2 linked regions of the Homo sapiens genome follow. The protein of the gene in region 2 purifies or fractionates together with the protein of the main gene of each other region. This does not show direct contact. Each region holds a gene or a part of one and is shown on either strand. Other genes may lie near its edges.

Region 1 (4,751 bases), about 43 Mb from region 2:
AAGCCAAAGTAAAAACAAGAGTCCATTTTATAGTAGAAAATACCTATTTTTAGGAAGCCCCTTGCACCTCATCCTCTTGGCCATGAATTTAAGTTAAAACACTGTTGTGCTATAGTAGATTAAAAGAAACCTTTTAAGATAATGAAATAAACCATCCCTGTTCAACTAACATAACAGGCATAATTGTCAGGCGTTCTGGAAAAGGAAAAGGCTTGGTGTTGGGTGGGGGAGGTTTTCATCCTGCTTGTTGGCAAAATGTATGCCACCTCCAGTATGACTAGGAACCTTCCAGATGCCTGCCTGGAAATGAATCAAGTATGAAGGCAGAGGAAATCTGCCACTTGCACTAGCCAAACTGCATTCCCACTTTTGAACTCTAATGTGTTATCTGTATCTGTTAGAGCACCACACCATATGCCCTGAAATGTAGTTATTACTGCAAACTTCATTCTCACCCCTGCAGGCCTGAGCTCTGGAGGCAGGTTCCACATCTAACAACATCTTTTTGTCTCCCAGCAGACTGACCCAGTGTCTTGTACTTGATCAAGAGAAAATTCAGCCATATGTTAATTATTTTATCTGGACTTCAGTTACCTTCTGTTAAGGTTTGAGAACTTGTGTCAAAGTTCTCGGTAGTGTTCCTTTGGCCTGGAGCAAGTGGAAGGGAAGCTTAAACCAGAAGAACCTATCCAGACCTGCTACTATGCTCACCCCTCTAAATGCCTCACTTCTCTATAGAATTTAACTTTTTAGTTGGTTATTCTGGATGAAGGGTGATCTGAACAAGCTAGTATTCAGGAATACAAGTATCTAAGAATATTTAGGGTGGCCATAAAGTCTGGAAACACAGGCAAATGTACCTAATGGTTTATTGATATTACACTATAGTACATGATGTGCTGAATGCCATCATGTCCGTTCAGCATCTTCCCTTATTAGCAATGCATAGTTGAGTGTACAGTGCCAAACTGCAACCAACAGGTGTATTACTGTAGCATTTCCATCATTTCCTGCACATGGACCTGTGTTCCTGATTTGTCTCTGATTTCCACTGACTAAACCTGCACCTTTAGCATATCCCAGAAGTGGTCATCAAAGTTTGCACTATTAGAAATATATACATGACTTATGTTTCCAGACTATTGCCACCCTATAAATTAAGCAAACTGCTTTATGTATCTAGTTGACAGCATTATAACAGTGCAGTGGCACAATCATGGCTCACTGCAGCCTCAACCTCCCAAGTAGTTGGGACACCTGGCTAATTATTTTTTGTAGAAACGGGGTCACACTATGTTGCCCACGCTGGTCTTGAACCCCTGGGGTCAAGTAATCCTCTTGCCTTGGCCTCCCAGAGTACTGGGATTATAGGTATGAACCACTGTGCCTAGCCCCATGAGTGTCTTTTGGAGTAAAATATTGTAGCATAGGAACAAAGAGACAAGCCATGCCATATATAAGTGCTAGAGGTTATTAACCCCTGCTCTAAGTGGTGTTTTTAGGAAGCAAAGCAGAGAATTGAACCCCCAAGTTCTCTGGCCAATAACCTAAGGACCACTGGCAACATCTAAGATTGCAGATCTGAGAATTAGACCAGTACTGCCTGCCTTTTTGTACTGCCTAAGGTTCTGGCAGGCTGTGGCGCTAAGGAGACCATTTCTCAATGTGAGTTTCTATCCCAGCTAGTCAAGGGTTCTCTATAGCCCTGAACCTTTCAATCTGGGGTCTCTATCTATACCCTAGTTCCATCAGATGGTTACTGAAGCAGTATGATTTGGTAGTTCTTTAAATTTTGGAATGAAAGGTCATTTGAAGTAGCTTTAAAACCAGAAGCTTTCTGACAGAAATGGAAACTGTTTGCAAACAAGTATGAGTTTTGGAAAAGTAGCCAGTCTTGATAACGTAGAATTCATCTTAGTACTCTTTCCATCAGCCATTCTCATCTAACTGTATCCCCCTTATTAGAAATCCTTTCAGGCTCTAGTACAAGACCTACCCTACATAAAGGACCCAAGATATTGTCCAGTTTGCAGATTTCTTCAAGAGATCAGCTTTAGCTCCAAATTCACAACTCCCAATGAACCAATCTCTTAGAGTGCAAATTACAGCCTTGCACTCTTATCTTATCTTGCCTTCTTATCTTAATCTGCCTTTAGATAACTCAAAGAACTGCATCAGTTTGACAATTTATTCTTGTATTTAATTGTTTAAATATACAATTTTTTACTCATTATTACCTTAGTGTAATTTGGTAAGAGCCATGTCCAAGCATGACTCTAAAGGACTATATCCTTTTTATTAGCATGGCCATATAATTTTTAGCTACAAAAGTTTAAGCAAAAACAAACTCTGCAATGATGTGGAATAGCAGAAAAGATCCTTTGCAGGCAAGAGACTCTAGCATATTTACCTATGTAGTTAACAGGCTGCAGACCTGGTTGCTACATACCTGTATTGTGTATTTCCTCAGCAATATACATGCCTTCTCGATAGGTTAGTCCCCCGACAACAGGAGTTCCTGTGGCTGGAGCCAGTGTAGGGTCAAATGCATCAATATCAAAACTCAAATGGATTGGTCTTTGTCTCCTAAAAAGGAAGAGGATAAAATAATACTTAAAATAATACTTAACTGGTTGTCCTTGGACACTCATCCTTCTTATGGTTGCAACTCCTTGATTTTGTTGCTATTAGTCCTAGTACTTTGTTAATAAAGCTGTTAATACATTTCCAGGCTTCCTATTCTTGGAAGTTACTGAGATTGGCAATATTAACTTCCTACATACCACTTCATGATACTGCCATTTGTTCTGCATACCTCAGACAGACTAACTCCAATGTATATTTCTGCCTTACACTGGGTATTAGAACCTCTTATACTAATAACTGTCAATAGAGAGATTTCTTCACTTCTAGATGAGATTGGGCTCTCATCTAGAGACAATTTAATTAGACAATTTAAATTAGTCTAATTTAAATTGGCTTGATGTAAGTTATGGTTGCTCTTATTCTCTGAACGTAACAGCAGCTGAAGTGAACTCTAATTTTAGGTCTGCAGTTTTAACATCTTCCATTTCTAACTTCATTATAGCCCCAGTGTCCAAAGGCTGAAGCTAACAACTAAGTTTCTTAACAGCTTATGAAATGACATACTACCAGATAACAATTCTGACATTAATCACCCAGAAGTAAAGACTTGGTATTGGGAAAATGCTCTTAAAATTACCATTTGATTAGTATTCATCTGCCATCTTTCTACACTGCCAAGATTTGCTTAATATAAAACTCAGATGAAACAATCGTGAGGCTGGGAAGAATGGGACAGTTGAAACAATAAATGCTTGTCATCTCAGAAGATAAGCATTAAAGATGGAGATAAAGAAAAATTCATGAGACAGAAGATCTAGGCAATGATTTAGAGGAAACCTCCTCCCAAAAACCCCAGAGGAAGAATATGACCTGTGTTTCAAATTTTGCCTTTCTGAACTATTTAAAATTATGTGTATGTTTTTGCTTTGTATTTTAAAAGTAAAGCTGCTGTCCTCAAGAAACAGGCTAAAAGTGTGTTGCCCATTGGGGGTTTGCCCTGACATCAGTTATAGTTACTTACTTGCCAATCAGCAGATCAAATGTTCGTTCCATGACCTTCTGGATACCAAGTCGATCAATATCTCTCATGGAAAAATACTGGATATCATAGTTCTTTAAAATAAAACTGTGATGAGATATAAAGGGAGGAGTCCTTAGTTTAAAGAGCATTTTTAACAAATATGTATTTGGGGGAGAGGGTGGGTTTGTTGTAGTGACCTGCAATAGACCAAGTTAAGCATCAGCCTTTCAAATAGAACATAATTGGCTAGGACAGGCCCTAAACTTCAGCCAAATGCATCAACTTACTGTTCAGGAGGGTCCACGTCTCTCAGACCAATATACACAATACTTGCAGAAGAGATACAAGGTTTGATCCAGGAAAATCCTGGGAGTTGTGGTACCTATGAAAGGGAGAAATGGACAGGATTAATCAAGAATTCTTGTTCTCACCAAGATCATTATCATGTGCGTCCGTGGGTATGCAATCTGCTTTCTTCTGCCACCCACAGGGTAAGTTTAGAGCAACACAGGACACACTTGATCTGGGAAGGAGAAGTGACACAAGGTGGAAATGTTTCAGAAGGGCAGCTGAGGAACACAGTATTGCTTTCTCAAGACGAATAAAATCTCTAAGGTTGTCTTGGTTTCTCATTAACTTACCTAGTAGCAGGAATACTGCTGATTAGCCCTTTTCTATCCCATTGCACATTACTGACTTGTTTACAGATTGGTTCTTGAAGCATAACCTGGTTGCCATCTCAAGTTGCCAACAGCCGACACAGGACTTCCGCCCAATGAATAATCTTTGTAGTGTCCTGGTTTGACTTGGTCCCTCACTGAGGGGAGGGATATACAGATTCTAGTCTGTGCCTAACATGGACTCCCATATATTCTGAACTGCTCAGGAAAATATTACCCAGAGGTCATGGTTTTATTTGTCTTCTAGATCAGTGTGTCTGAGAGTATGGCCTGGGAGCCTCTAACCAAGAAGTCCTCAGGCTGTGGGTATATCAGTCGCTATTGTTACTACCCCCTCCTTGCTTTCTTACAAAGAACAGAGACTATGTCTAGTCTTTATACCCCTAGCATCTGGCAGACTGCCTGGTCCATAATAGTGATGAACAAATGAAGGAGTGGTAATCCACACTCAACCCACCCTTCAC
Region 2 (8,407 bases):
ATTCTCTTTGTGCATTTAGGGGTGTGTGTCTAATACAGGAACCCATGTTTTCCTGTTATTGAAAAGCCTTTTTTAATCTTTTAAGCACATTTTAAGACCTGCCTGTATTCCAGGTGTATTGTTTTCTTTAACATTAAAACGTAAGAGCAGGTCACAGCCATCAGAGAAACCTATTAGGTCTCCCATTTGTGTCATAGGAGACACAAAAAATAAATGAATCGAATTAAATGGATAGACAGAGTCCTGGGCAGACTGGTAATACTGCCTGAATTCAATTAGAGGGAATGGTTGTTCCTATTTGTGAATAGAAGACTATAAAATTTCATCTGATTGTGGGTGTTAAGGGGATGATGACTTCTTAATCATAAAAGTAAATGTAATTGGTATGAAATATTCAGAAGTTTTTAGCAAATATAACTGAAATAATGGGTGATAAACCAAAACATTATTTGAACTTAAAAACAAATCTTCACTAAATTTTGGTTGGAAGCAGAGAGAGTAGATAGTACTCAGGCCATAAAGGTGGTTTTCAGTGCTGGGAAAGTAGGGTTCTCACTAGATCTAAGGACAGTGGCCACCTTTCCTTTGTCTCTGCTCTCCTGCTTTAATGGCCCCCGACAATGAAACTGCAATAAGCTATGGAATGCGTGAACTGTAGAGTCTCCCTGCTCACCAACTGTGATTGGAGTAGGTGCTTTCTGTACTTCATCCCTTCAGAATTCTTTTTGCCATCTGTTGAGCATCTACATAGTTATTCGAAAGTGTGGAATCTGTGGGGTGATTCGAAACAAAGAATATGCCACAGATGCATAGTCTTCAGCAAGTCAGTAATTAGGATCATCTTCAATATAGCCAATAATGATTTCTACTTTCTGTAGTTCCTTTCTATTTAATTTGCTAATTCCTATAGCCAGGGTTCAGGAGAAGCTTTTAGGAAATCCCTTTAAAGACAATTAATTACTTCCTACCCTTGAGTCTCCATGTCACAAAGTAGGCAGATGTAGAAATATTCAGAGTGCCTCTCCTGGTGCCTGATGCTTGGCTTCAGTCTGAGAGGTGATGCTGTCCATCTTTAGCACAGAAAGGCTTAGGGGAAGAACTCACTGAGGCTGAGAGAAGAAATTGTCCTTTTCCTACAGGTGTGGAGGTGTGCCCAGAACACCAGATTCAATCATAATTAGATGCAAACTAGATACAAACTGAACAATATTAGAGAGCCAAATAGTTTGGGGATTTTTTGAGTTAGGGATTACTCCTCATCACTGAAGCCTAAGATGTTTACACTGGACTATAAAACTAGAAATATACCTTGCAGTTCTCTAGGGGAGCCAATTACCTTCATTTCCTTTCAAATTCAGCCTTTCCCAGTGAACCTTACCTGATGCCTGTCAGTACTATATGCTTCTTTTCCTGCAAGCTGTAATTGTGCACTTATAGCCTCCATTGAAGGTGCTTGGTGTTATTCACTTAAGTCATTTTCAGTTTGAATGGATAAACACATAAATGAAGCAGCCCTTACAATTATAATTATATTGTAAACTGCTTCAGAGTGGAGATTGTAACATCTATTTCCTTTACGTTCACCCCTGACCAAAGGCACACATATTTATTCATATTCCCTCCTTTCCCCCTCTGCCTTCTCTCTGTTATTGTGCATATACACAGTAGGTGTCCTGTAGAAACAGCACTGAATGTGGAAACAAACCACCAACTTGCAGGTGCACTAATCTGAGTGATCTTTTCTTGGCAGTGACAAACAAGAAACCCACACAGGCGTCCATCACAAAGGTCAAACAGTTTGAAGGCTCCACATCATTTGTTCGGAGATCACAGTGGATGCTCGAGCAGCTTCGCCAGGTTAATGGTATCGATCCTAATGGGGTGAGTGAATTGTCCAATGCTGAGCAAAGGCATTCTTTTCACAAGATGACTCTCTGATTGACCTTGGTAGTGGTAGTGGTGGTTTGAATCATTCTTAAGAAGGCTATTTCTCTATTTCAATTATGTGATTAAAACTTTCGGATACAGAGTCCTTTCTTATGGGAAATTATAAATCTTTTCATCATGTTTAATAGAGGAATCTAACAGAATGCATATTGAAAAAATGTGACCTCCGGTAACATTGATCAGCAAAGTACGAAGTTCAGAGTGCAGATAATCATATCGATGGTTATCAATATGGAAAAAAAAAAACATGTTTACCAAAACCTCATTTATCTCCTACTGGCACTAATGACAAGGTGTATTTACCAAAAATCAAGTAAATGAATGGTATCTTTCAGTATGCATTGTGATTCCCTTGCTTTTAATAGGAGAAACATTTTATGGCATAGTTATCTATGCAAAGTACATTCCCGTTGCTCACATGCACACCTCACAAAATGCTAATAATGAAGAATAATAAAATATAAATTGTTACTATAGACTAAAATAACAAGAGGGAATCTTCCTACCAAAGTTTAGGGGCCAGATTAATATAGGTCGTTGCTGAGAACCTAAAGGAATCCCTTTTCCAGGAAATTGGGAAGATAATACATGGTCTCAATTCTGACATTTGTCAGTGTTTAGTTAGGCTATCTCAATTTGTGTGATACTAGTTTCCTAGGAACATGTATCAATACTGTAAGATTTGGGGTTTGCTTCATAAACAGAGAAATGTAGACTCTCCATACACTTGGATAAAGATGAGCCTTATGATTGCGATCAAAGTCTTTGTTTTAGCCCTTATAAATCTTTTGACAGGAGTAATCTAGAAACAGCAGTTTTTATAGATTGAGATTAGTAGTTATTTCATTGTCTTTTCCAGGATTCGGCAGAGTTTGATTTGTTGTTTGAAAATGCTTTTGACCAGTGGGTAGCCAGCACAGCGTCAGAAAAATGCACCTTCTTCCAGATCCTCCACCATACCTGCCAGAGGTACCTCACGGACAGGAAGCCAGAGTTTATTAACTGCCAATCCAAAATTATGGGAGGTGAGTGGACATTTGTGTGACTTTAGTCATCCTGTTTCTTTAGACTCACTTTTACTTAAGAAGTTAGGAGTTCAGCAGCATAATTAAAGACAAAAACAGGAGAAGAATCAATATGCTCAGAGCTAGACAACATAAGAACCATTCCAGGGAGTTTATTGTATGGTAAATTTAGACACAAAGGTATGTTTTCACTCTTGTCCAAAAGCTGGTCTTTTTTAGAATTAGCCTTCTAGTTCTTATCTGCACTTAGCTAAGATTATTTGAATGATGAGAACAAAACTGCTCCCTTATTAGAAAAACCTTTTATTTTGGTTTCTTTACTACCTTTTCTATAATTTCATTGCAGAACACCATTTTCTGGGTTGCCTTTTTCTATTTTTTCTCAAGATGTTTTACAAATATTAATATAAAAATTCCAACAGATGCTTCCCCTTTCTTTCAAAAGCAACTCGTGTTTATTCCTTGAATGGCATACAGAGCTGAGTTAGGATGAGTACAGTAAGCCACTGTAAAGGGGTGAGTGCCAGCATCGGCAACATAATGAGAAATGTTTAGAGGGTGCTTAGCACATTTCTTAGGTGGCATTTCTTTTTAGAGAATTGATACTGTGCTAAAAATGTAAAAGCCTTGACAACTCTGTGAGTTGGGGAAGAGTGTTTATATCATTGGTCTTTTCACTGACCTGTCTCTTGGTTTTGAAAGACTGTTTTTAAAAATGCACCAGCTTTGCCTTAATCAGATGTTAAATGAAGATCACGTTAAATACATCACATCTTCTCCTTGGGCTGTATATATGTTTCATATGAACATACAGCAGAATCCATTACTCTGTCCTAGCAACTGACACACATACTGTCATTTTGCCATTAGTTACTAGAAGTTGTATAGAGAAGTTATTATCCAATTCTTTGGTATTAGCCACTGAGGTATTGGCATTCCTTTTAAGTAGGAAGTTGCTTACATCATAAGAACCTTGGAAGGTCTTTCTTAGGTATTTATGCAGCTTATTTTATTATAGTTTCTCTGTTTAATCCCAGGAAAATACAAGAGGTGATGAATGGTGTATATTTTTTCAAGGGGTCACATCCTATGGTACAAAAGTGAAAAATATTAGACATAGATGTTTAAAGGAAAGGGAATTTCAAACACTGACCTATTTGGAAAATATAATAAGATATAGCTCTGTATCATGTCTGCGCCACCAGTGCTCTTAAAATGACTCCTGCTTTGAAAGTCCAGCCTTAACGGACTTGGCAGAAGGTTGAAGCACACCAGGCTTAGGACCACAGAGGGCCACATTTTCAGTGAATGGAAAGTTGGCCAGGAAATCCCAGGTTTCCCTCATTCTTCATTAGGTGGAGTTTGCTCTGATAGCCTAGAATCACATTTGTTTCTTAATCTTCAATTCCTGCTATGAAGCATTTTTCTCATCCATGTCCATATGGTCAGTAGCTTGCATGGCTAGCATGTAAGCACAGAGTCTCTTCTCAAAATAATGTGACATTATGGATTTGAAATTTCTGTTGCTCTTGGAGAAAGACTCCCCTCAAGCATTGCACTTCTTCATGTTCCGTCCTGGGCAGTGTGGCCAGAAACAGACCAAGTGCCATAGAAACTACTGCACTTCCTCAGAATGGAAATGTGGATGGAAGCAAAAGGGCCACACACTCACTGTCCTTCCAAGGGAAACGAGCTACCTCCTTCATTCTAAGGTTAGGGATAGCTTTGCTGACTCTTCCTCTTCCTCCCTTAACAGACTGCACTAGGCAGTCCCCCTGCTCTGTTTCCCCTAAAGGTCTCATTTCTTCTCTAGGAACAGGCTTTTTCTTTCCTTCATTCAATTACAGTTCATTATCCAATCATACAATAAATGAGAACTAAGAACCTACTACATGCTAGTCACTGTGCTACGTATTGGACATAGAGAATAATTCTATATTTGGTTCCTTAATAGACCCTAATTGCCACTACTCAAATCCCAGACTGATAGATCTCTAATTTGTTCTTCCTTTGCCTTCCTGAATATCCTCAGACCTTCCCACACAGCCCCACCACACTGCTTCTGTCCATCATTGAGCCAGCCCTTCAGCTTTCTTTCATTGCCTTGTGAACCCCAAATTATGCAGAGTTGAGATGGGAACACATATGTCCAGTGTTAAATTGTTGGTATGTGTATTTAGGCAAGCCGAATATTGGTTTCCTGTAGTAAGAAAAAATTAGAATAAGTTAATAAAACCAAATGCCAGAATTGCCTTTGCCCTGTGTAACTGTAGGTGTGTCTCTCAGCTGCTCTAGACTTCAGTTTTCCCAGGTGTCACATGTAGAGGTTAGACTAGATGCTATATAAAATCTCTTTCAGTTCCATCACTTTGAAAGTCTGTAATTCCTAAATTATAGTTTTATTGTGTAGGTTAATTGCTTCTTATCTAAAGAATCAAAGATTTAGCGCAATTAAATATTGACAAGTCCTGGATTACTAAGGAAGGCACAAAAAGGTTTAAATTAAGCATGTAGTAATTTGTTGGCAGCACATATAACCTTAGTGAATGCAGCATGTCTTAAACAGTTGCTTATGCTTAATAATAGTTGTGCCAACACACCCTGATAAATTAGTATGCCGATTAGTCTTCTTTTCTGCCAGCTATCACACTTCTGAGACTTCAAAATTAGGTGCTTCTGGGGCCACTACATTCTGACCTCTTTAACTTTTGGGTATCTTCCACATCTTTAGGATATGAAATCTGTTGCCAGTTTCACAGTATCTTTTGGTCTCTTCCTATAGTATGGGCCACAAGTCCTAGATACCATTGTTTCTTATACCATGCAATAGGATAGTTTTATGATTTTAAAGAACTAATACTGGTGTTAGTATGCTGCCCAACACCAGATTCTATACATATGTTATCTAATTTAATTTTTATAGCAGACTTTGGAAATATGCTTTATCAACTCCATTTTATAGAGAAGGAAACAGAATCAGAGAGATCAAATAGCTTGCCAAGGGTCATATAACTAGTAAGTCGTAAAGATAAGATGCCAGGGCAGGCCCACTTATTGGCTCCTTAAAGCCACTGAGTGGCATGCTCCAGGAAACACCATTGACATTGTCTTTGTTATGAATGGTGCCCCCTGGAGTTGTATATGAATTGCTGGGAATATTTTAGCCACTACATTCCTGGGTATTAAAAAGGGAGGTGGGAGAAAACCCGCCTTTATGGATAGTTTTAACTTTTTTCCTAGTTTTGTCCCAGGAAAATATTTAAGATAATTCTTAAGCTATTTTTTTCATCCTAAGAACAATCGAGTCATCAAGCACCTTTAAAATCATCTTGCTTTTTGTTTTTTGTGTTTGTCCACCAGAACTTCAATAGAGGAAATAGATGAAAGCACTGGGAAGACAGTGCAGCCCTAGCCGCCTACAGGGCCTCTCAGGTACTCTATGCCAACCTAAAATAATGAAAAGGGTCAGAATCTAGATTAAAGAGACTTTAAGTGCAAAGGTTGAGGACAAGCCCACCCAAGAAGCACAGATTCCTAACAATGGAAGTCAGTGTTACAAAGCGTAGACGTGTGAGATTGCTTATGTAGACAAAGCCTGGGGAATTTTAGCAGAATTTCAGCATCTTTCTATGTAAGGCTTAATACATAGTCACAATGACCTGATTAGTTCAGATGGTCCTCCTCTTTTGAGAAAGGTACATTTAACATTCCATTGCAGTTACTGCAGATGTAACTGTCATGGGGTCCCTGTTCAGAGCACCATCTAGTCTGAGTTAGGTCAGGAGATAGGTCAGGACAATAAAGAAGGCAGTTAATCTCTAACAAAGATTTGTGATTGGAAGGTAGAGGTCTGGTCTCTGGTCTCCTAGTCACTTACAGAACAAAACAATGAGGAAGAGAGTTAAGCTATAATCTAAGAAGTAGAATTGCAAAACATGCTGCATGACTCAGATCACAGCCATATCTCTCTCAAGGCTTAAAGTGTTTTTGGGGGTTCCAACAGCTTTTAAATTGTATTTATTTTCACAGCTGTATCTGGACCAACCCTGTCATTGGGAAAACTGAGGCCCAGCAATTTTGAATGACTTTGTCAAGGCCAGGGACTATGCAACAACCTACAGAGATTGAAGGCAGAGGTGGGGAGCCAGGTCTGGCTGCTGAAATGTGACATGACCACATGAGTGACAGGGGTCCCTGAAAGTACAGTCTTTAGTTCATATGGTTTGGATTTACTTCTTCTGAAATGGTGGCTTTTATTTTCTCTGTGTTTATTGTAAACAGAAATGATGTTATACTGTTATACGTGTGATGACACATTTGTACTTCAAAGGTGCCTCAAAGGAGTTAATAACGTGTTATTAGACTCCACAGGAGGGACTTGCTTTCAGCTAATTCATTTCAAACAGATGTTGAGAATGATGGTTCTGTTGCAAGGACAAAAAACCAAACACCGCATGTTCTCACTCATAGGTGGGAATTGAACAGTGAGAACACATGGACATAGGAAGGGGAACATCACACACCGGGGCCTGTTGTGGGGTTGGGGGAGGGGGGAGGGATAGCATTAGGAGATATACCTAATGCTAAATGATGAGTTACTGGGTGCAGCACACCAACATGGCACATGTATACATGTGTAACTAACCTGCACGTTGTGCACATGTACCCTAAAACTTAAAGTATAAAAAAAAAAAAAGAGACGTGGTCTGCCTCAAATAGATTGTCAGTATAGATTAACGGGTATGCCATATTAGGTCAAGGTCCCAAGGAAGACTTTGTTACTTTACTTACATCAGTATTCTTTAAACGTGAGCAAATCCCACATGGCTCCCACATTGCTATTTCATTTGTGTTGACCAATTTATAATGATTACTGTTGGCCTAGTATTCATATGCCTAATACTGTGAACTGTAGAAATCTTTGGTGATACTGGCAATTTCTATATTAGAACCACAAAGTAGGTTCTTTGCAAACCCATTTTCTTTTTCATTAAGAGGTATAAATTATTTGCAAGAAAAAATAATTTATTCTTCAAGATAAGCATAAACTGAAGCATATCCAAGCCTTTTACTTGAACTCTGAGCCCGAATACCCTAGCTAACTCATTCAGTTCTCTCTTAACTATTTCACCTGTTGTATGTCATCCTTCAGTGATCCCACAATCATTTACTCAGCGCTATGTAAATGTGCTAAACTAGCTGTGGAGATCCAGTCACACAGTAGGCACCTTCACCAGCTTGACTTACTTTCTGGACATATCAGATGTAAATAGACGTGAAACATTGCCATGACAGTAAGGGGATGGCTGAGCTGGAGGTTAAAGGATGGTTAGCAGTTGCCAGACAGACAAGGGCAAGATGAAATTAGCTCTCTCTTATTGCAACAGTTAATCCAGACAATTTTATTTCAATGTTAGCTGTATTCAGAATTTGAA

What was found. The genes of interacting proteins can lie anywhere in the genome.
Region 1: the proteins of STXBP6 (region 2) and VTI1B purify together in Homo sapiens (affinity purification with mass spectrometry; 2 studies listed by BioGRID and IntAct, with this or other methods). This does not show direct contact.

What each region holds. Positions count from the first base shown.
Region 1 is NC_000014.9:67,645,882-67,650,632, reverse strand, and holds the end of VTI1B (vesicle transport through interaction with t-SNAREs homolog 1B), read left to right. Parts: 3' UTR 1-2,449; coding exon of another isoform or gene 2,450-2,586; 3' UTR 2,587-3,548; downstream 3,549-4,751. Other genes in the region: ARG2 (arginase-2, mitochondrial precursor), read right to left, coding at 2,450-2,586, 3,608-3,712, 3,895-3,989. UniProt on the Homo sapiens protein: V-SNARE that mediates vesicle transport pathways through interactions with t-SNAREs on the target membrane. These interactions are proposed to mediate aspects of the specificity of vesicle trafficking and to promote fusion of the lipid bilayers.
Region 2 is NC_000014.9:24,850,501-24,858,907, reverse strand, and holds part of STXBP6 (syntaxin-binding protein 6), read left to right. Parts: intron 1-1,750; coding exon 1,751-1,881; intron 1,882-2,806; coding exon 2,807-2,972; intron 2,973-8,407. UniProt on the Homo sapiens protein: Forms non-fusogenic complexes with SNAP25 and STX1A and may thereby modulate the formation of functional SNARE complexes and exocytosis.